2 separate regions of the Homo sapiens genome follow, and region 2 is linked to region 1. Evidence: fine-mapped expression QTL. A gene starts in region 1. The other region holds a variant in brackets. All regions are shown on one strand. Distances are between the middles of the regions. Region 1 holds the start of TRAK1 (trafficking kinesin protein 1). Region 2 overlaps LOC107986077 (a long non-coding RNA gene).

Evidence for each region. PIP is the estimated chance that this variant, and not a neighbour inherited with it, causes the effect.
Region 2: its variant is fine-mapped to the expression of TRAK1 in whole blood (TOPMed, PIP above 0.99).

What each region holds. Positions count from the first base shown.
Region 1 is chr3:42,084,081-42,094,885 of GRCh38, reverse strand. It overlaps TRAK1 (trafficking kinesin protein 1), which reads right to left and starts at 3,529. Exons shown (of 16, transcript NM_001042646.3): 1 at 3,326-3,529. The coding sequence starts at 3,416.
Region 2 is chr3:42,001,885-42,012,689 of GRCh38, reverse strand. LOC107986077 (a long non-coding RNA gene) reads left to right here. Exons shown (of 2, transcript XR_001740668.2): 2 at 1-672. Among named protein-coding and RNA genes, the nearest start is that of ULK4, 45 kb to the right of the region's middle. The variant C/T (reference allele first, on the strand shown) is at 5,331.

The sequences.
Region 1 (10,805 bases):
AGCCTTTGGACTGCAACTATACCATTGGGTCTCCCAGGCCTCCAGCTTGCCAACTGCACATCTTGGACTTGTCAGCCTCCACCATCAAGTAACACAATTCCTTGTAATACATTTCGATATATGTTTCTCCTATTGGCTCTGTTTCTCTAGAGAAACCTAGAACAGGATTTATAACATTATATTTCTTCCAGATCTAGTTATAAAGTTACACCTTTGCCGGGCACTGGGGCTCATACCTATAATTCCAACACTTTGGAAAGCTAAGGTGGTAGGATCACTTGAGGCCAGAAGTTCAAGACCAGCCTGGTCAACACAGCAAGATCCCACTGCTACCAAAAAAAAATAGCCAGGCACGGTGGCTCCAGCCCATAGTCGCAGCTACTTGGGAGGTGGACGTGGGAGAGTCACTTGAGCCCAGGAGTTCAAGATTGCAATACACCATGACTGCACTGCACCACTGCACTCCAGCCTATGTGACAGAGTGAGACTCTGACTCTAAAAGTAAAATAAAGTTTCAGCTCCTGATAGTTTCAGCCTGACTTGCTCAAGTTTTTCAGTGTTTATGAGAGATCAGGGCTCAGTGAAAACAGAGAAGTTTCTGACTCCAAAGTTCCCCCTGGGGCCATGAGTCCCAGACTCACACACCAACCCAGCTGCTCAGCCTGAGCCTGGCATTGGTGCACCCTGAATCCTCTCAGTCACTCCCAGTCAACGTTCCTACAACAGACCTTGGCTGAGCAGGAAGGTGCCGAGGCCCATACCTGGCCACTCTGCCAAAAACTGCCATTTTTTTTTCCTATTATAATTTATTATTTGCCAGCTTCCAAAAATAGTTTGGGGTGAACAAAGATTGATACATTATATACATGAAAAGCTTGTTTCGGCCAGGCACGGCGGCTCACGCCTGTAATCCTAGTACTCTGGGAGGCCTAGGCAGGCGGACTGCCTGAGCTCAGGAGTTTGGGATCAGCCTGGGCAACATGGCAAAACCCTGTCTCTACTAAAAATACAAAAAAATAGCTGGGCGTGGTGGCGCATGCCTGTAATCCCAGCTATTCAGGAGGTTGAGGGATGAGAACTGCTTGAACCTGGGAGGTGGAGGTTGTAGTGAGCCAAGATCATGCCACTGCACTCCAGCCTGGGTGATAGAAGTGAGACTCTGTAAAAAAAAAAAGGAAGGGGAGGGGAGGGGAGGGGAGGGGAGGGGAGGGGAGGGGAGGGAAGGGAAGGGAAGGGGAGAAAAAAGAGAAGAGAGAAGAGAGGGGAGAGAAAAGAGGACAGGAGAGAAAAAAATTTGTTTCAAGTGCAGAACTAAAACCAGTTAGGAGAAGATAAAAATATATCAAATACTTGAGAACTATGGCCCCAAAATCACATGGAAAAAAACTTACAAATGACATTTTAAATAAATTTCACAATTTATGTCAAAAACCTTGTGATAAATATTCTACCTACTCACCTAGTCATAAGGGAACTGAAGGGTAGGAAGATTAGCTGGTGGCCCCCAAATCATTTATAGCATATTTAAAAGGCAGAGGTGAATGTTTCTGTGGTTTTGCAAAGATCAAATGCTCTCTCTAGAAATTAGCATAACAGGGCCCCTTTCTGCATTCCATCTGCAAAAACAAATCAACTGTGAAATAAAGGAGATTCCACTAAGAGAAGGAGAAAAAAAAAAACTTCTAAATTACACATTTAGAAAATATGTGTTATTCCCTACATTGTAATTTACATTTTCTCACTCTGTTGTAAAAGGGATATATATTTCACTGTCCATTCTTTTCTGTTTCATTAATATAGCCAAATAAAAGACCCATTTAGATTATAAATTTTCAATAGAAAACACAAATAAAAATTATACTAGAGAGAAATTGACAAGGCCTTAAATTTAATTAATAAGATGTGTAAGAATTCCATAATGTTTTATTTGAGCATGTTTTCAGAGGATAAGACATCAAGTTTTATGGCTTAAATCAGTGATAGAAAAGGAAAAGATCCTGGGTCAGGCATGGTGGCTCACGCCTGTAATCCCAGCACTTTGGGAGGCCGAGGCAGGGGGATCACTTGAGCCCAGGAATTCAAAACCAGCCTGGGCAATACAGTGAGTCACGAAATAACATAACATAACATAACATAACATAACATAACATAACATAACATAACATAACATAACACAACACAACACAACACAACACAACACAACAAAATAAAAGGAACAAATTCTAAGCCATGGCCCTTTGATGAAGAGTCCTCCCAGGCAGGGCTACTCCTGTTAGCAGATTTTTCCTAGGCAATTCTCACTCGGTTTACAGCTTCTCCTTTACACCCTGGCCCACCTCTGTGCTCTGAGGGCAGGACCAGTCCTCTCTCTGACCCCAGGAATTAACATAAACCCCAGTAAAAACCTGGCCCTGGGTGCACGCTGCTTCAACACACAAAAATAAGTACGATTGCCTCAGTAAGATGCATGTTTGAAGTGTCTTTAGGCTTATTCAATAAGATTTACATGTTTTAAAGCCTAAAACTGACTGGAATGGAACAGGAGCTCACTTCTCTCAGGAATTAACTGTTTTCTGGCCCAGACAGCTCTCAGGAAGCAGCGTGTAGACAGGACAGAAACCAGATGGGTCATCAACCACTGGACTCTGACCAGCTTAGAGGAAGTGAGAGGTGTCAGCCCCACAGCAAGAGACACAAGCCACAGCAGATCTGATTAGCAAGCCCTCCATCACTGGGGTGTGGATCCGAGTCCCAGGCCCAAGCATTTAGTAAAGGACAAAAAAGAAAGGGAGGGTGGAAGAGAGGGAAACGGGAGAGAGGGAGGGAGACAGTCTAACTCTGTCCTTCACCTTCTGAAAAACTCCTTGCTGACCCAAGATACCAGGTTAGCATCTAAGAAATCAGGATAAAGACAAGACATAGGATTAGAGAAATCAGAGCTGGAGAGGCGGAGGAGGCCTTAGAAACCCTGTCCACCCACTGCAGAGAACTGTGAAGGGAAAGGGAGTGGCAGTGCAGGGGGTCTGGGCTCAACTCAGCCCTGTGCTCATGCCCTGCAAGTGTCACTTGCACCTACTGAGCCTGGGCAAGGGGACAAGGGGACCTGGGAACGGGAGATGGGGGGGTGGTGAGGGCAGTAGTTGTGTCTCTGAAGTCCCTTTGCTCTGCCTATCATTCAACATGGCAATTTCTCTACCACATGACCATGAACAACCTCCCAAGCAGCACGGAGCAAGAGAGAGACAGCTTCTCCTGTGGTCTTTTCTCCTTTCCGACCACACCACAAAGAAAACAGACAGCAGACAGACCTGGCAAACAAACTTACCACAGGCGTTTGTCCGAATGAGCTTGCCGTGGCAGAGTCCTGGCAGAGGCTGAGCCCTGACGGGCTGCCCGAATTGAAAAACCAATGCCATGTGCAGACATAAACTCCAAAGGCACTTCAGAGAACAGAGAGAGCCTCCATGAGAGCTCAGCCCCGGCAGTACCTCGCACAGCCACCCTCCCGTGCCTTCCTCAGCAGTTTTCTGAGTTTGCTTGTTAGGGCAAATCCTAAGATTGTGAGCTGTCCTGGAAGCACAATGGGTTATGTAACTCCAGGCAGCCTGGGAACCCTATCAGCTCATCTTGTTAAGCCACCCCAAACAGAAAATGACGCACCCAAAAATGTGATACCTCTAGGTTGGGGGAAGGGGAGTAGCAAGGAGAACGGGGCTTTGTGATGGGCATTCGGTTTTGCCTAAAAATTAAAGTGGAACAAAAAGTCTGCTGTTCATCTCAGGGCTTGCTGGGAACTGGGGGAGGAGTGAATTTATCAAGGGCTGAATGCCAAGCAGTGTCCTGAGACTGCACTTGGCAAAGCCCTGGGAGGCCACAGATGCATTCTTGGGGATAGTCTAGGTCTCTCGGAGAACTTTTTTCCATTTAATGTCTTCCTTTCAATGACTGCCTAATAAAACTTTAATCCGAGCATGTTCTCCATCACCTGACAGCCCATCCCTTAAACGCATAAGAGTGTCTGTGTTTACTCTCCTGTTTACCAAGCCAGTGCTAAACACAACAGCACCGAGCTGTTTCTCAGCTTTCCTCTGGTCCCAACAAAGAACCCCCAAGTCACCACATCCTATAGGGTTTGAAGTTTCAGCACTACATTCTGCCACTTCTTTGTTGTGTTTTTTGTTGTTGCTGTTTCGTTTTGTTTTTTTGAGAGAGTCTCACTCTGTCGCCAAGGCTAGAGTACAGTAGCACTGTGTCAGCTCACTGCAACCTCCATCTCCTAGGTTCAAGCAATTCTGCCTCAGCCTCCCAAGTAGCTGAGATTACAGGCGTCCGTCACCATGCCTGGCTAGTTTTTATATTTTTAGTAGAGACGGGGTTTCACCATGTTGGCCAGGCTGGTCTTGAACTCCTGACCTCAGGTGATCTGCCCGCCTCGGCCTCCCAAAGTGCTGGGATCATAGGCGTGAGCCACCACGCCCAGCTGTGAAGTTTCAGCGGTACATTCTGCCATTTCTTTACCCTCCACTGTCACATTCAAAGAAAGTGAAAGCACTTTAACAGGCTGGATGCTTCCTGGATTTCACTGGTACAGATGCCACTAGAATCCCAAGGATCAATTCATGTGTTTGGACAAATGTAGATGCGGTTGGGTCATCGCCTCCTCCACAAAGCCCTCGTGGTCTTCTCCTGTCCTTTCCCCTCCAAGGTTCAGCCTGGCACCCTCCTTGGTGCCCTACTGTGCTGTGCTTATCATTGTGCTAACCTCGGTGTACAGCCAATTTCTACTCACTCATCTGTCTCCCCAACTAGACTAAATTCTTAGGCAGCAAAGAACCCTTGCCCTGGGGTCCTACAGACCTGGATGCAACTCCTGCCACTCAGGAGTTTCACCAAGGTGCTGAACCTTTCGAGATTTAGACTCTTCACTTACACAAAGAGGATAATAGTACTCACTGCACAAATTGACACAATTGATACACCCAACAAATGTTCACTGAGCGCTGGCCACAGGCAGGCACTACGTTAGTCACTGGATTCAGGAGTGTGCAAAGTAGACACAGAGTTTGCCCTCCGCGACTTTAGTCTACTGCAAGTTTGGGAGACAAAACACAAATACAGTAGTTCAGCAGATGGTTAAGTTTGGGGGAAAAAATTAAACAGGAAAGGGAGATGGGGAAAGGTGAGGCAGATCACTCTGTATTGGGGGGGGGTCACAAAAAGCATCAAATAAAATGTCACTTGGAGAAGGAAGAGGGGGTCATAAGGATATCTGGAGTTAAGGCAATCCAAAGACCCTGAGGCTGGATGTGCCTGGTGAGTTCAAGGTTAAGTGAGGCGGCCAGTGTACCTGGAGCACGGAGGGCACAGAGGAGGCAGGTCAGCGGGGCAAAGAGGGATTCCTGTCATTCAGCCCCTTCCTTACAGGTCTCTATAGAAGGGGAGCTCACTGGAAGTTTGGAGGAGAGTTAAACCATCTGATTGTATTAAAAGCCAACTCTCATGGTTGAGCGGAGAAAGAATTTTAGGGAGGCAAGGGTAGCAGTAAGAGGCCCCACTGGAAGGCCAGTGCGGTCATCCAGGTGTGAGATGGGGGTGGCTGGGACACAGTAAATGCTGGGTAGATTCTGAACATACTCTGAAGATACAGCCAACAGAATTCTTGACAAACTGGGGTATGAATCGCAGAAAGGCAGAATCACAAATGCCTCCAAGGTTCTTGGCCTGAGCAACTAGAATAATGAAAGCACCATTTACAAGGATGGGGAAAACCCTAAGAAAAGCAGGTGCAGGTGGAAACCAGGAGCTCATTTTTGGTCATTTGAGTTTGACATGCCTGTTAGACATCTAAGTGGAAACTCATGTGGAGTCAGTCTGAGACATCTGGCCTTAAGGAGGAAGGGCCAGGCTGAGTACAGAAACCACCGAGTGGCCAGTACAGAAGGCGATTTTAAAACCTGTGTGCTGGGTGAGATCAAGTGCTGCACAGGTGCACACATAAGAGCAAAGAGGCGGAAAGGCTGGGCCCCGGGCCCTTCAACGTTCCCAGGCTTGGGAGAAGAAGAAACGCAGCCACTGAGGCAGAAGAACAGGGAGAGTGTGGGGACCCAGAAGCCAAGTAAAGACTGTACTTCCAGGACACAGGACTTGGCAACAGTGTGAACTACCACTGAAAAGTGAAGTAAGGTGAAGGCAGAGGACAGACCCCTGGACTGAACCAGGCTGTCAGTGTGGTGGGGCATGAGCCTGCCTGCAGTGGACTCCAGAGAGAACAAAAGAAAAACTAGAGTAAGCAAACAGAAGAGCAGAGACACTGGCCTGCGGGAAACACGGGACTGAGAAGGATTCTATTTCCGAAGAGGGAGATCATAGCATGTTTCTGCACTAATAAGAAAGACCCAAGTGCAAGGGGAAAAGAATGATGCAGTAGAGAAAAGGGAGATGTTGGAACTGTGTCCTTCAGGGGGCAGGCAAGTGGGAGAGGGACTCAGTCACAAGCGGAGGACAACACATGTGGGCCACTTAACAAAAAGGGAGAGGAGGTGTGTGGGGGCCTAGCACAGCAGCTAGGCACCAGGCTGGGACCCCCGGCTTTCTCTGTGCCTTTCTGTATCCAGGAAACCCCTGACACACAGGAGGTCCTCAAGGCTTAACTGGTAACACAGAACCAAGAGAAGCTACTGGAAGCCAACTTGCATATATTAAGCTGTCATCAGGCATTACTTCAAACAGACAAACAAAAGCAAACACTGCAGACAAAAATGAGAAATTAAGCAAACTTCTATATGAATGCAACTGGATTGAGCTATAATTTTGCCACTTGCTGCTGTTATGCACACCATCCTACACCATTTCCATTGAGAGCCCTCTCTTGTGCTAGCTTCAAGCACTTGTCTCAATGCTTCCTTGGGGAAAATAAAAAAGCAATAGCTCTACTACTAAGTGCCCGCACAGATGTTAGGTGATTACCACCTGGGACACTGAGAGTTATGACTGACACAGGTATCTGTAAAAATCCATGTCTGTGCAAATCCTGATGGTGTACAAAGGGCACTCCATGTAGTTTTCTGTTTTTGCATCCCACAATGACAGTGCATGTTATTCCCACTACACCTGTCTTATATCTGAAGAAGCTGAGTGCAAAGAGAGAAGGAAGGGTTCAATACACTGAGTGCCTGTGATGGGCCATGCTTGCTGCTCAGGTTTGGATGTTACCATCTTTAACCTTCATGACAATTTAGTGAAATGCTGTCTACCTCTCAGTCAGGATAGTAGGTCAACAACTGACACAAGTTACAAAATGGTTCACTGGCAGAACAGGTTCTGGATTGGAGGTCTCACAATCCGAAAGCTCAGAGTCTTTTGCACTTTGGTGGTTCCTCTCCACATACCTCCCCAAGACCCTCCCATGTGGCTGCATTCCTTCCCTAGTCCTCAGTGACTGAAACCTCCCTCCCTTCCTCCCTGGCAGGGAAAGGGCCCCCATACCAGTAATGGTGCAGGCATCCCGGTACCCTCTGTAGCTGGGAGCATCTTCCACAGCCTCGCTTATGTAGTGTTCCTCAGGGATGCCCAGGCTGCAGGCTAGGACTGCATGGTTGCATGCCTCCGAAGGGGGCACGGAGTTGGCCAAAGTGTCGTCGTGCAGAGCTGTGGCGTCCAGCTTGGCAGGTTTCACGGGGAGGTGCCCACTGCCATCGGGGGCCCCACTGCCAGAGTCTGGGGCAGTTGGGCAGATGGCCCCCGGTAGTTCTGGTGCACCAGCAGGGGCTCCTTATAGGGAATCTATGGGACAATTGAAAGAGAGGGGCACAGTTAGAGTCTATCGATAAACCTGGACAATCTTTAGAAAATGAGGGCCCCGGGATGACGTGCGTTCAGACTGCGAATTCTGAAACGCGTTTCTCTCAAGTCAAGGCATCTCCAATCACATTGCTTAGTTTCAATAAAATAACTGCAGCAAAGTTCCATTCAACTAATCAATATTGACCAAAATGTGGAGCACATGGCTTCATTTGCTTACTGAAACCTGCCTTGAAGCAGCTCTAAGCAAAGAAACACACTGGAGCACAGCTAAAACCTGTATTCCTACAGGATTTATACACACAAAGAGAGGTAACATTTTTATTTGTATATGGAATTACATAAGATATGTTTCTCTTAAACTCTTTCAACCACAATAACTTCTCAACTCTCTAAGAACTTTAAGGTATGCCCCTACCTTAAGCTACAGTGAGAAATTAGGGGACTCCTTTAAGAACCTGATGAAAATGGCTGGACACGGTGACTCACTCCTGTAATCCCAGCACCTTGAGAGGCCGAGGTGGGCGGCTCATTTGAGGTCAGGAGTTCAAGACCAGCCTGGCCAATATGGTGAAACCCCATCTCCACTAAAAATACACAAACAAAAAAAAAATTAGTCAGGTATGGTAGCGGGCACCTGTAATCCCAGTTACTCAGGAGGTTGAGGCAGGAGAATTGCTTGAACCGGGGAGGCAGAGGTTGCAGTGAGCTGAGATCATGCCACTGGGCTCCAGTCTGGGCAACAGAGTGAGACTCATCTCAAAAAAAAAAAAAGAAAGAAAAAGAAGAATCTGATGAAAACTACAGACTCACCCTCATTTAAAATCTGACTAGGATGAAAGATAACTTCTGAGAAAAGATGGCATGTGACATAGGCTGCTGAACACTCCGCTCTGCGCCGGCAACAGCACACCTACATGCAGGCGATTTCCCACACATTTCAGGAGTGCCGCTGCCTCAACTCCCAGCGCACCTGCACACACATCACATGTGTACACACAAAACGTCAAACAGGAGCTTAATGAAAAAGGAAACCTACAAAACATTCCTCAGCACAAGAGATCTCAAAGTGTGGTCTGAGAATCCCTGGAGTTTCCTGAGACTAGTTCAGAGGGTCTACAAAGTCAGACACTCTCGCTCTCACTCTTTCATGGATGTACAGTGGAATTTTCCAGAGACTACATTATGTGTGATGATGCCACTGCTCTGAAAGCTAATTAATGGAACTTTCATATCCGTGTGGTTTTACATCTTATGTTTCAATTTCTATTACAATACATATGAATCAACAGAATCATTTAAATAAAAATGCTTTAGGAGGCTCAATAACTTTGAGGCGTCCTGAGACCACACCCACAAAAAAAGTGTGAGAACCACTGCTCTAATAAATGATGCATTATCGTTTGTTTAAAAAACACATACACACAAAAAGAGAAAGTTAATAGACATTTCCCCCAACATGGTAGAGTCAGTTCTGAAAGAAAACTACAGCCCTGAATCTGTGACCTTTTTCCCAACAGGTTTATTTACCAAAATACACCAGGAATTCCTATTACAGGCGGAGTATCCCTTAGCTGAAATGCTTGGGAACAGAAGAGTTTCAAATTTTGGATTTTTGACTGGGCACAGTGGCTCACATCTGTAATCCCAGCACTTTGGGAGGCCAAGGCGGGCAGATCACTTGAGGTCAGGAGTTTGAGGCCAGCCTGGACAACATGGTGAAACCCCATCTCTGCTAAAAAATATAAAAAGTAGCTGGGCATCGTGGCGCATGCCTGTAAACCCAGCCACTCAGGAGGCTGAGGCAGGAGAATCACTTGAAACTGGGAGGCGGGGCTTGCAGTGAGCCAAGATCATGCCACTGCACTCCAGCCTGGGCAACAGAGCAAGACTCTGCCTCCAAAAGAAAAAAAAATGATTTTTTTTCAGATTTGGGGATATTTGCCTTATACTTACCAAATGAATGTCCAAAATCCAAAAATCTGAAATCTGAAATGCTCCAATGAGCATTTCCTTTGAGTGTCATGTAAACACTCGAAAAGTTTCAAATTTCAGATTTTCACATTAGACATACTCAGCCTGTATAAATGAACTCAGCCCAGGCAATAAACTTCCTGCCCTCATTAACATGAAAAAATAAATATGAAAATGGGAAGGATGGGTAGGAGAGTCTGTATATCCCTGGTGAGAAAAGAAAGTTAACAAGAGAAGCTTGGAACCTTTAGGAATTTCTGCAAAACAACATGTAGATAAAACTGGATTGGCATAAGGAAAAAAAAAAAAAAGAAAACGGGATTGTCACGCCTAGTCAGTGACTCAAATACAGATGAATGGATAAGCTGCCTCACTAGAAAAGCCTATAATCCTCAAGAAGAACCCAGAACATTCTAGACAGCAGAGGGCTGAGCAGGATGAACTAGAAGACCCCCAAGAGTCACCAATGATGGTCAAGGGTCCAGGATGGGAATTCACCGGCTGAAGCCAAGGGAAGCTGGGCACTGCCACAACCCACCCCCAGTGGGGCCCAAGGGGGCTTCTCCATGCTGGGCAAGTTGTGATTCTTGGTCTGGAGACTGACTTGCTGACTAGAATCAGTGCATGAAACTCCATCAAGCTGTACTCTTTACAATTCACACACTATTTTTACACTTTTTTAAAAATATGGAGTCTTACTATGTTACCCAGGTTGGTCTCCTGGGTTTAAGTGATCCTCCTGCCTGAGCCTCCCAAGTAGCTGGGATTACAGGTGCACACCACCAAGCCCAGCTCTCATACACTTTCTTTGTATGTCTATTTCAATTAAGTGATGAAAAGATTAGTGAATGCAGATACCGAGTCTATAAATTAGCTTGAGAAGTCATCCCTAAAGCAAGAAGATAAAAAGGCACACTGATGAGAGTTCCAGAAAAAAACAAAAAAAGCTTAAGACAAAAAGAGTAAAGTATATAAAAACATTAATTTTAAAATGATTTTCTAGAGGTGAAGACTTACACCTTTAAATCAAA
Region 2 (10,805 bases), 82 kb after region 1:
TACAAAGAGGCAGGCAGACAGCATCTTAACCAGGTGATCAAAATTTACATCACCAATGAGAGCAGATGGATATCATGTCCACATCAGCTATGCAGTATTCCTGGGGACAATGCATAACCTGAATCATGATAGTGAAACATCGGACAAACCCAAAATGAGGAACATCTATTAAAAAGAGGAAGGGTCTGTATTATTCAAAAATGTCAAGGTCATTAAAATCAAAAGAAAGCTTGGGAAATGTTCCAGATTAAAGGGTGCAAAAGAGTCAGGGCAGCTAAATGCCATGCCTGATCCTAGACTGCATCCTGTGCTAGAGGAGGGGAAATACATCACGGACATTCCAGCTGACAAAATCAGAATCCATGTAAGAGATTAAAGTATTGGATCAATGTTAAATGTACTGATGTTGATAACTTCCACTGTAATTATGTACAAGAATATCTAATTCTTGGGAAATACACACTAAAGTATCTTGAAAGGGTAAAGGTCATAATGTATGCAGCTTACCTTCAAATGATTCAGGGGAAAAAAAATCTTGATAGGAAAAAATGATAAAGCCAAGTGGGCAATAAAGGTAAGGTGCATATTATCAGTGAATCAGCATATAGAGTGTACTTGAACATTTCTGTAAGTTTGAACTTATTTCCAAATAAAAAGATTTGGAAAAATCCATCAAGTTGGGGAATGAAGTAAGGTGGAAAGAAAGCAGGTATGATATAAAAGGGCAACACAAGGGATCCTTGTGAATTTGGAACTGTTAAACATCTTGAGTATGGTAGTACAGGTGATAAAATTATCTAGAACTTAATATACACACAAATGAGTACAAGTAAAACTGGGAAAATCTGAATAAGATAGGTAAATTGTATCAATGTCAATATCCTAGTTATGATATCATATTAAGGTTTTGCAAATGTTGTCATTGGGGGAAACTAGGCCAAATATATATATGTGTGTGTGTGTGTGTATTTTTTTTTTCCCAAGACGGAGTTTTGCTCTTGTTGCCCAGCCTGGAGTGCAATGGCACAATCTCAGTTCACTGCAACCTCCACCTCCCAGGTTCAGGGAATTCTCCTGCCTCAGCCTCCTGAGTAGCTGGGATTACAGGCGTGCACCACCATGCCTGGCTAATTTTTGCATTTTTAGTAGGGATGGGGTTTCACCATGTTGGTCAGGCTGGTCTCGAGCTCCTGACCTCAGGTGATCCACCTGCCCCAGCCTCCCAAAGTGCTGGGATTACAGGCATGAGCCACCGCACCTGGCCCAAATATATTATTTCTTAGAAATGAATGTGAATCTACCATTATCTCAATGCAATTTTTAATTACAAAAAAAATCATTTTTAATTACAAAAAAACTGTATGTAAATGGGCATGCCCATCAGGGAGCATGCCAGAGCAGATATGCTGGAGCTCTCATAGTGGATCTAGAATAGACATGGTGCTGTTACCAACAGTGAAGGCTTTCAAGAAAAAAAAAAAATTAGACTATTTGAAGTATAACTGACCGATCAGATTCCTTCCAGTTCTGTAATTTAACAATCCTAGAGCTGGGGGTTCTTTGAGATCATCTAGTCCAACCTACTCATTTTCTGGAAACTGTGGGCAGAAAAGTAGTGTGTGTCCACAGGAGCATCAAATTAGCGGTAGACCCGTTAACTACTGCTTGTCTGCCAAATATGTTCTACTTTCTTTACACCTTTACCAGCTGTCTGTCACTCCCTATATCTATGAGATTCAGTTAAGGCTGGTAGAAAATTTTGAAGTCATTCATTCTTTGGAGTCCCTGATTTGTTCTGTAGTGCCAGATGACAGGCATGTGGATTCTGCCCCTGAGGAGTAGGGACCAGTTTTCCTCTCCTACTCTCAGCTTGGAGGAAGCAGATGGCAGGCGGGGCCCCAGTGACAGCCCCAGTTCTGGGCCTGACTGAGCTGATGAACTACTTGGAGCAGCTGCTGACCTGCTGCTGCTGGAAGCCAGTGGAACAGGAACCTGGGAGGGAAGCAGAATGGATACAAGAAAGGAAAACAGTAATTGCCCTGGTAAGTCCTCCCTTCATCCAGCATGAGGCAGAAGTAGCTGCAACAGAGGCAACTGGCTTCCCTTGAGCCACAGATAGCCACTGTATTCTTTCCTTTTGTTGAATCAAATCGAAATTAATCTATGTTTACTTGCATTTGCCAGGCCCTCGTTAGTAACTGTGGGAAAATACAAAATAGAATATCTGATCCCTACCCATTAGGAACCCAGAATGCATCCAGGGACCCAAGGTGGAAATGTTGAAAGTGACCCAACAAAAGCAATTAAAAGGCTAGCTATATTAGCTGGGGTTCCCCCCAAAAGCAACATTGGAGAAGGACTCATGGGCAGATACTTTCTTCTGGAAAATGATCCCGTAGGATATGGGTAGAAAAAGAAATTGGGACCAGAAAGAATGAAACAGGAAAGAAAGAAAGCCTATTGAAGGATATAAAATTTCTGTAAACAACTGGAGCTTAGTCCCACTGAGGCCCCCTGAGGAACTGCGCAGAATGTAAGACAGAGGAGGAAATATTTAGCCACCAGTTCCTATCTCCCATTGGCCAACTTGATGCTGAGTTCAGGAGTGGTGGCTCACACCTGTAATCTCAGCATTTTGGGAGGCCAAGGTGGGTGGATCACTTGAGCCTCAGAGTTCAAGGCCAGCCTAAGCAACATAGCAAGACCCCATCTCTACAAAAGAAAAATTTAAAAATTGGCTATGGAAGTATGAAGGTATATGCCTGTAGTTCCAGTTACTCAAGAGGCTGAAGCAGGAGGATTGCATGAACCCCTGAACTCAAGACTGCAGTGAACTATAACTGAACGATGGCACTGCAGCCTGAGCAACAGAGCAAAACTCTTGTCTCAAAAAAAAAAAAAAAAGTAGATGCTGAGCAAAAAAAGCTAACTAAGATACAACATGGGACATATATAAAAGATGCCTGACACCAGCTTTATTCATTGCTGCAGTCCCAGCACCAACAACAGTGCCTGACTCATAGATGCCCCGTCAATAGATACAGAAAGAATGTCTGGGTGCGGTGGCTCATGCCTGTAATCCCAGCATTTTGGGAGGCCAAGGCAGGCAGATCACTTGAGGAGGATCACTTCAACTTCTGTTGAAGACCAGCCTGGCCAACAGGGTGAAACCCCGTTTCTACTAAAAATACAAAATTAGCTGGCATGGTGGTGCATGTCTGTAATCCCAGCTACTTGGGAGGCTGAGGCAGGAGAATCATTTGAACCCAGGAGGCAGAGGTTGCAGTGAGCAGAGATCATGCAGTTGCACTCCAGCCTGGGCGACAGAACGAGACTCTGTCTCAGAAAAAAAAGAAAAACAAAAAGAAAAAAAAAAAAGGGCGGGACGAGGTGGCTCACACCTGTAATCCTAGCACTGTGGGAGTCCGAGTCGGGCAGATCACCTAAGGTCCGGAGTTCCAGACCGACCTGGTTAACATGGTGAAACCCCGTCTCTACTAAAAATACAAAACAAATTAGCTGGGAGTGGTGGCACATGCCTGTAGTTCCAGCTACTCGGGAGGCCAAGGCAGGAAAAGCTCTTGAACCAGGGAGACGGAGGTTGCAATGAGTCAAGATCGCACCACTGCACTCCAGCCTGGGCGACAGAGCGAGACTCCATCTCAAAAAAAAAAAAAAGAATGAATGAAATACTGTAAAAAGTAGATCCATAAGTCATATATTGACAGTTTTGCGTGTGTGTCTATTTTTTTTGGTTTTTGTTTTTATTTTTTTTAGAGACGAGGTCTTGCTGTGTTGCTCAGGCTGGTCTCCAACTCCTGAGCTCAAGCAATTCTCCCACCTGAGATTCCCAAAGCGCTGGGATTACAGGAGTGCACCGCCATGCCCAGCCTGTGTCTGTTGGACTAGGCTAGGGTGATAGAGTAGTGGGTAAAACAGATGCATTCCTCAGCCTGGGCAAAATAGGGAGGCCCTGTCTCTACAAAAAAATCAAAAAACTAGTCAGGGATAGTGACATGTGCCTGTGGTCCCAGCTACTTTGGAGCCTGAGGTGGGAGGACTGCTTGATCCCAGGAGGTCTAGGCTGCAGTGAGCCATGATTGTGCCACTGCATTCCAGCCTGGGTGACAGAAGGATACCCAGTGTCAAAAAAGAAAAAAAAAACGGGTATATTCCTAGCCCTAATGGACCTTTCTGTCCAGGAGAGGAGTCAGATAATGTGATACACATATACATATTTAATTAGTTTGTGAAGGCCAGGCATGGTGGCTCACGCCTGTAATCCCAGCACTTTGGGAGGCCAAGGCAGGCAGATCACTTGAGGTCAGGAGTTTGAGATCAGCCTGACCAACATGGTGAAACCCCTGTCTCTACTAAAAATACAAAAATTAGCCAGGCGTGGTGGTGTGCGTCTGTAATCCCAGCTACTCGGGAGGCTGAGGTGAGAGGATCATTTGAACCCGGGAGGTAGAGATTGCATTGAGCCAAGATCGCACCACTGCACTTCAGCCTGGGTGGCAGAGTGAGACTCTGTCTCAAAAAAACAAACAAAAAAAAAATAGTTTGTGAAAAGTGCTATGAAGAAAAAGATGCAGGTGCTGTAAGTAGGATAAGAAGGGGGTTTATGATAAATCAGTTGGTTGAGGAAGATCTAAGGCGCTAACACTTAAGCTGAGACCCAAAGGAGGAACAGGAACCAACCATGCAAAGTGGAGGGGCAAGATCAGACCCAGAAGTGGGAAAGGCCCTCGATGGCTGGAGCCATGGTGGGGTTTCAGGGAAAAGCCAGGCAATGAGACTTCATGGTTCTGGTAAGGAGTAAAGAGTTTTAGGTAAGACTGACATGGTCACATTCACTTTCTAAAAACCTCCTTCTAGCCGCTGTGTGGAGGATGAACTCAAGTGGATAATCAAAAACCTCCACACTGCTGGCTGTGGAGGGTGTGAATACCAGACCACATCAAGACCAGCACAGAAGGGTCAGCTGCCACAGCATCTCCTCTACCACCACTACTGCCACCAGTAATTCTTCAGGAATATGCTAAAACCCACTGTAACATAAATGGGTTCAAAAATGGCAATTGGTAGACTATCGGGTTCCATAGCTGAAGGTTAATTAAAACCAATATTTCTAGGCCGGGTGCGGTGGCTCACGCCTGTAATCCCAGCACTTTGGGAGGCCGAGGCGGGCGGATCACGAGGTCAGGAGATCCAGACCATCCTGGCTAACACGGTGAAACCTGTCTCTACCAAAAATACAAAAAATTAGCCAGGCGTGGTGGCGGGCACCTGTAGTCCCAGCTACTCGGGAGGCTGAGGCAGGAGAATGG[C/T]GTGAACACGGGAGGCGGAGCTTGCAGTGAGCCAAGATCGTGCCACTGCACTCCAGCCTGGGCGACAGAGTGAGACTCCTTCTCAAAAACCAAACCAAACCAAACAAAACAAACAAAATCAATATTTCTAGCCTGGGCAACATAGGGTGACCTTGTCTCTACAATTTTTTTTAATTGGCTAGGTGTGGTGGTGCATGCCTGTGGTCCCAGCTACTCAGGAGGCTGAGGTGGGAGGATTGCTTGAGCATGGGAAGTAGAGGCTTCAGTGAGCCATGATTGCACCACTACATTCCAGCCTGGGCGACAGAGCAAGACCCTGTCTAAAAGAAAAAAAAAAAAACTCTCAGACAATCTTACAATTAGTGTGTGAGGGAAAGGGGAAAAATGTTTTCTATTATTACATGTGTAGGAAATGGAACAATTACAACAAACAAAGTATCAGCTTGAATTGAACTGAGAGCACCCCACATGATTGTGGGGTATTCATCTATAATCACCCCAAACACATACATACTCTAAGAAAAGAGCTTGAACCTGTCACCATTTCAGAAGGAGAGCAGAGTCCAATTATGTTTCATCCACATGCACATTATCCTGAAATCTCTTTTTTTTTTTTTTTTTTTTGAGACAGGGTCTTGCTCTATTGCCCAGGCTAGAGTGCAGTGGTACGATCTCAGTTCACTGCAACCTCCACCTCCCGGGTTCAAGCAATTCTCCTGCCTCAGCCTCCCGAGTAGCTTGGATTACAGGCACATGCCACCGTGCCCGGCTAATTTTTGTATTTTTAGTAGCGATGGGGGTCTCACCATGTTGGCCAGGCTGGTCTCGAACTCCTGGCCTCAAGTGATCCGCCCACCTCAGCCTCCCAAAGTGCTGGGATTACAGGCATGAGCCACAACATTCGGCTCCCCCTTTTTTTTTTCTTAGAGACGGTGTCTCGCTCACTGCGCTGCCACCCCCCTTTTTTTTTTCTTAGAGATGGTGTCTTGCTCTGGCACCCAGGCTGGAGTACAGTGGTGCTATGATCACTCACTGCAGCCTCAAACTCCTGGGCTCAAGCGATCTTACTGCCTCATCCTCCCAGGTAGCTGAGACTACAGGTGCATGCCACCAAGCCCAGTTAATTTTTTTTGAGGGGGGGTAGAGATTAGGGGGCACATGTCTCACTATGTTGCACAGGCTGGTTTTGAACTTCTGGCCTCGTGATCCTCTACCTTTGCCTCCCAAAGTGCTGGGATTATAGCTAGGAGCCACCGTGCCCAGCCATCATAGAATATTTTATGCCAGATTTTAATCTCACATTTATTGAGCACAGTTTGCACCAAGCACTGTGCTAAGTAGCACTGCACTAAGTGCTTTATTTTTTTAATTTTTATTTTATTTATTTATTTATTTTTGAGACAGAGTCTTATTCTATCACCCAGGCCAGAGTGCAGTGGCAAGATCTCAGCTTACTGCAACCTCGGCCTCCAGGGTTCAAGCAATCCTCTTGCCTCAGCCTCCTGAGTAGCTGGGACTACAGGCGTGTGTGCGCCACCATGCCCAGCTAATTTTTGTATTTTTAGTAGAAATGGAGTTTTGCCATGTTTGCCAGGCTGGTCTCGAGCTCTTGACCTCAGGTGATACTCTTGCCTTGGCCTCCAAAGTGCTAGGATTACAGGTGTGAGCCACTGCACCCAGCCATGTGCTAAGTGCTTTAGTAACATCAGTTCCTTCATTCTGACAGCAACTCTATGAGACAGCTATTATCTGCAGTTTATAGATAAGGAAACTGACCCTTGGATAAGTGAATTAACGTATACAGTCATAAACTATTGAAAAAGTCAGGCTGCTAGCCCCATATGACTGATTAAACACTTTGCTTTTGTCTCTGCGAAGTAAAAGAGAGTCAACCTCAGTCTTGGGTAATGGGAAGAATGAAGAGGAGAGGAATGGCACGGGAAAAGAATTCTAGGATTAAGACATGAGGGGCTGGGCATGGTGGCTCAAGCCTGTAATCCCACCACTTTGGGAGGCTGTGGCAGGTGGATTGCTTGAGCTCAGGAGTTCGAGACCAGCCTGGGCAACATGGAAAAACCCCGTCTCTACTAAAAAATACAAAAAAATTAGTTGGGCATGGTGACATGCACCTTTAGTCCCAGCTACTCAGGAAGCTGAGGTGGAAAGACAGCTTGAGCCTGGGAGGCAGAGGTTGCAGTGAGCCGAGATTGCGCCACTACACTCCAGGCTGGGTGACAGCGCCAGACCCTGTCTCAAAAAAAAAAAAAAAAAAGACATGAAGACTTGTGTTTATAAACCAGACTTATTGTGCATGGATTTTTTAGACATAAGAAAAACCATGAATTAATAACAATAACTTCTTTACAGCATCTGGTCTTTTGCCTTGAATCCATCTACTTTCCTCAGACAAACCAGATGCTATCATTCTTGTGCTGTAAACTCTTCAACAACGCCCTAGTGACCTAGGGGTATAGCCCAAACTTTCACTCAGGGAACAGTATTCTTCACTGGCCCCCATCCATCTCTTTAGCCATCTGCTCCACCACACTTTTTTTTTTTTTTTTTTTGAGACAGAGTCTTGCTCTGTCGCCCAAGCTGGAGTGCAGTGGCGCGATCTTGGCAAACTGCAAGCTCCACCTCCCAGGTTCACGCCATTCTCCTGCCTCAGCCTCCCTAGTAGCTGGGACTACAGGCTAATTTTTTGTATTTTTAGTGTAGATGGGGTTTCACCGTGTTAGCCAGGATGGTCTTGATCTCCTGACCTTGTGATCCACCCATCTCGGCCTCCCAAAGTGCTGGGATTACAGGCATGAGCCACCACACCTGGCTTTCTCTGTCTTTATTGGGTAGCCACCTCTGAGCTCTAACAATTGTTCCGATGTCTAAATGCAAACCCAATGTTGTCTTATCTCCTAGATTTTCAAAAGAAGTCAGAAATCTGGATTGCAAATAAAATCTACCTGTTTTAGGCCAGGTGCAGTGGCTCACACCTGTAATCCCAGCACTTTGGGAGGCCGAGGCAGGTGGATCACTTTAGGTCAGGAGTTCAAAACCAGCCTCATCAACATGGTGAAACCCCCTCTCTACTAAAAATACAAAAATTAGCTGGGTGTGGTGGCACATGCCTGTAGTCCCAGCTACTCGGGAGGCTGAGGCAGGAGAATCACTTGAACCCAGGAGATGGAGGTTGCAGTGAGCTGAGATTGCACCACTGCACTCCAGCCTGGGCAACAGAGTGAGACTCTGTCTCAGAAAAAAAAAAAAAAATTATGACCATGAATCTCAGGTGAGCTTTACTGCTGCTGAACAATTAATAACTCTCTAATCCAGTCATTCTCCCACTCTTCATGAAAACTACAACACATTTTTTCTTTTCATATCCAAGTTCTAGCAACTCCCTCCCCATCTTCACTGTCAGATGGTGACTTTGTTTCTTATCTCACTGAGGAAATGGAAGGAATCAAACGAACTTGTTTTTTGTTTGTTTGTTTGACGGAGTTTTGCTCTTGTTGCCCAGGCTGGAGTGCAATGGCGCGATCTCGGCTCACCGCAATCTCCACCTCCCAGGTTCAAGCGATTTTCCTGCCTCAGCCTCCCGAGTAGCTGGGATTACAAGCATGTGCCACCACGCCTGGATAATTTTTTTTGTATTTTTAGTAGAGACAAGGTTTCTCCATGTTAGTCACACTGGTCTCGAACTCCCGACCTCAGGTGATCCACCCTGCTTGGACTCCCAAAGTGCTGGGATTACAGGCGTGAGCCACCATGCCCAGCCCAAAAAAACTTCTACAAGCTCCCACCACTATGTCTACCCACCTAGTTGTGACTGGGACCAAATCATCTATTCACCCTACTGAAATTAGTGATGAATTATCCCTGCTCCCATCAAAAGCCGACTCCTCCCGTGTGAAGTAGACCCCATTCCTTCTCACCTACTGCATTAGGGTGAATGGTGGTCCCCCAAAATGTATTTCAGGTCCTAATATCCAGAACCTATGAATGTGACCTTATTTGGGAAAAGGGGATTTGCAGATGTCATTAAATTTTTTTTTTTGCGGGGGGAATGAAGTCTCACTCTGTCACCCAGGCTGGAATACAGTGGCACGATCTCGGCCCACTGCAACCTCTGCCTCCCAGGTTCAAGCGATTCTCCTGCCTCAGTCTCCAGAGTAGCTGGAATTACAGGCGCCTGCCACCAACATCTGGCTAATTTTTGTATTTTTAGTAGTAGAGATGGGGTTTCACCATGTTGGCCAGGCTGGTCTCAAACTGCTGACCTCAGGTGACCCGCCCACCTTAGCTTCCCAAAGTTCTGAGATTACGGGTGTGAGCCACCACACCTGTCATTAAGTTAATGATCTTGAGATGAGATCATCCTAGGTTACCTGGGGAGGCCCTAAATCCAATGACAGTGTCCTAGTAAGAGAAAAGCAGAAGGAGATTTAAAACAGACAGAAGAGTAGAACGCACACAGAGGAGAAGCCAATGTGAAGGCAGAAAAGAGAGAGATGCATCCACAAGCCAAGGAATGCCAGCAGCTGCCAGAAGCCAGAAGAGGCAAGGAAAAAATTTTCCCCTAGAGCCTACAGAGGGAGTACATCTCTGCTAACATCTTGAGTTCAGATTTCTGGCTTCTAGAATTCTGAGAGAGTAAGTTTTTGTTGTTTTAAGCCACCAAATTTGTGGCAATCTGTTATGGTGGCCCTAGAAAACTAATATACCTGCTTGGGTATATCATTACAATTTTCTCCCCTCCTTCCTCCATCATCAGTTTTTTTCCTCTCTACTGGGGCATTCTCACCAGCATACAAACATAGTTATTTCTTCTGTCTTTTTTTTTTTTTTTTTTTGAGACAGACTCTTACTCTGTCACGCAGGCTGGAATGTAGCGGCATGACACTGCAACCTCCGCCTCCTGGGTTCAAGTGATTCTCCTGCCTCAGCCTCCCAAGTAGTTGGTGCCTGCCACCACACCAGGCAAATTTTTGTATTTTTTGGTAGGGATGGGGTTTCACTGTGTTGGCCAGGCTGGTCTCGAACTTCTGGCCACAAGTGATCCACCAGCCTCAGCCTCCCAAAGTGCTGGGATTACAGACTTGAGCCACCATGCCTGCCCTATATTTCTTCCATCTTGAATAGAAGAAAAAAACTCTCTTGACTTTACTTCCACCTCTAGATGCCACCCTGTTTTTTGTCATCCTTCATAACAAAGCTATTTGAAAGAATTGCTTATCGTCACTGTCTCAATTCTGTCCATTTTTTCCTGAAACCCATTCCACTGAGACTACTCCACCCAGTCAAGGTCACCATTGACCTCCACATTGCTACATTTAGGGTCCATTATCAGTTCTCCTTTTACTTGACCTCTCAGCCACATTTGACACAACTTTTGTCATCTTTCTTCTTGGAACACTTTCTTTACTTGGATTCTAGGAAACTGCACTCTACACTCACTCCTTAGTGATCTCATCTAAT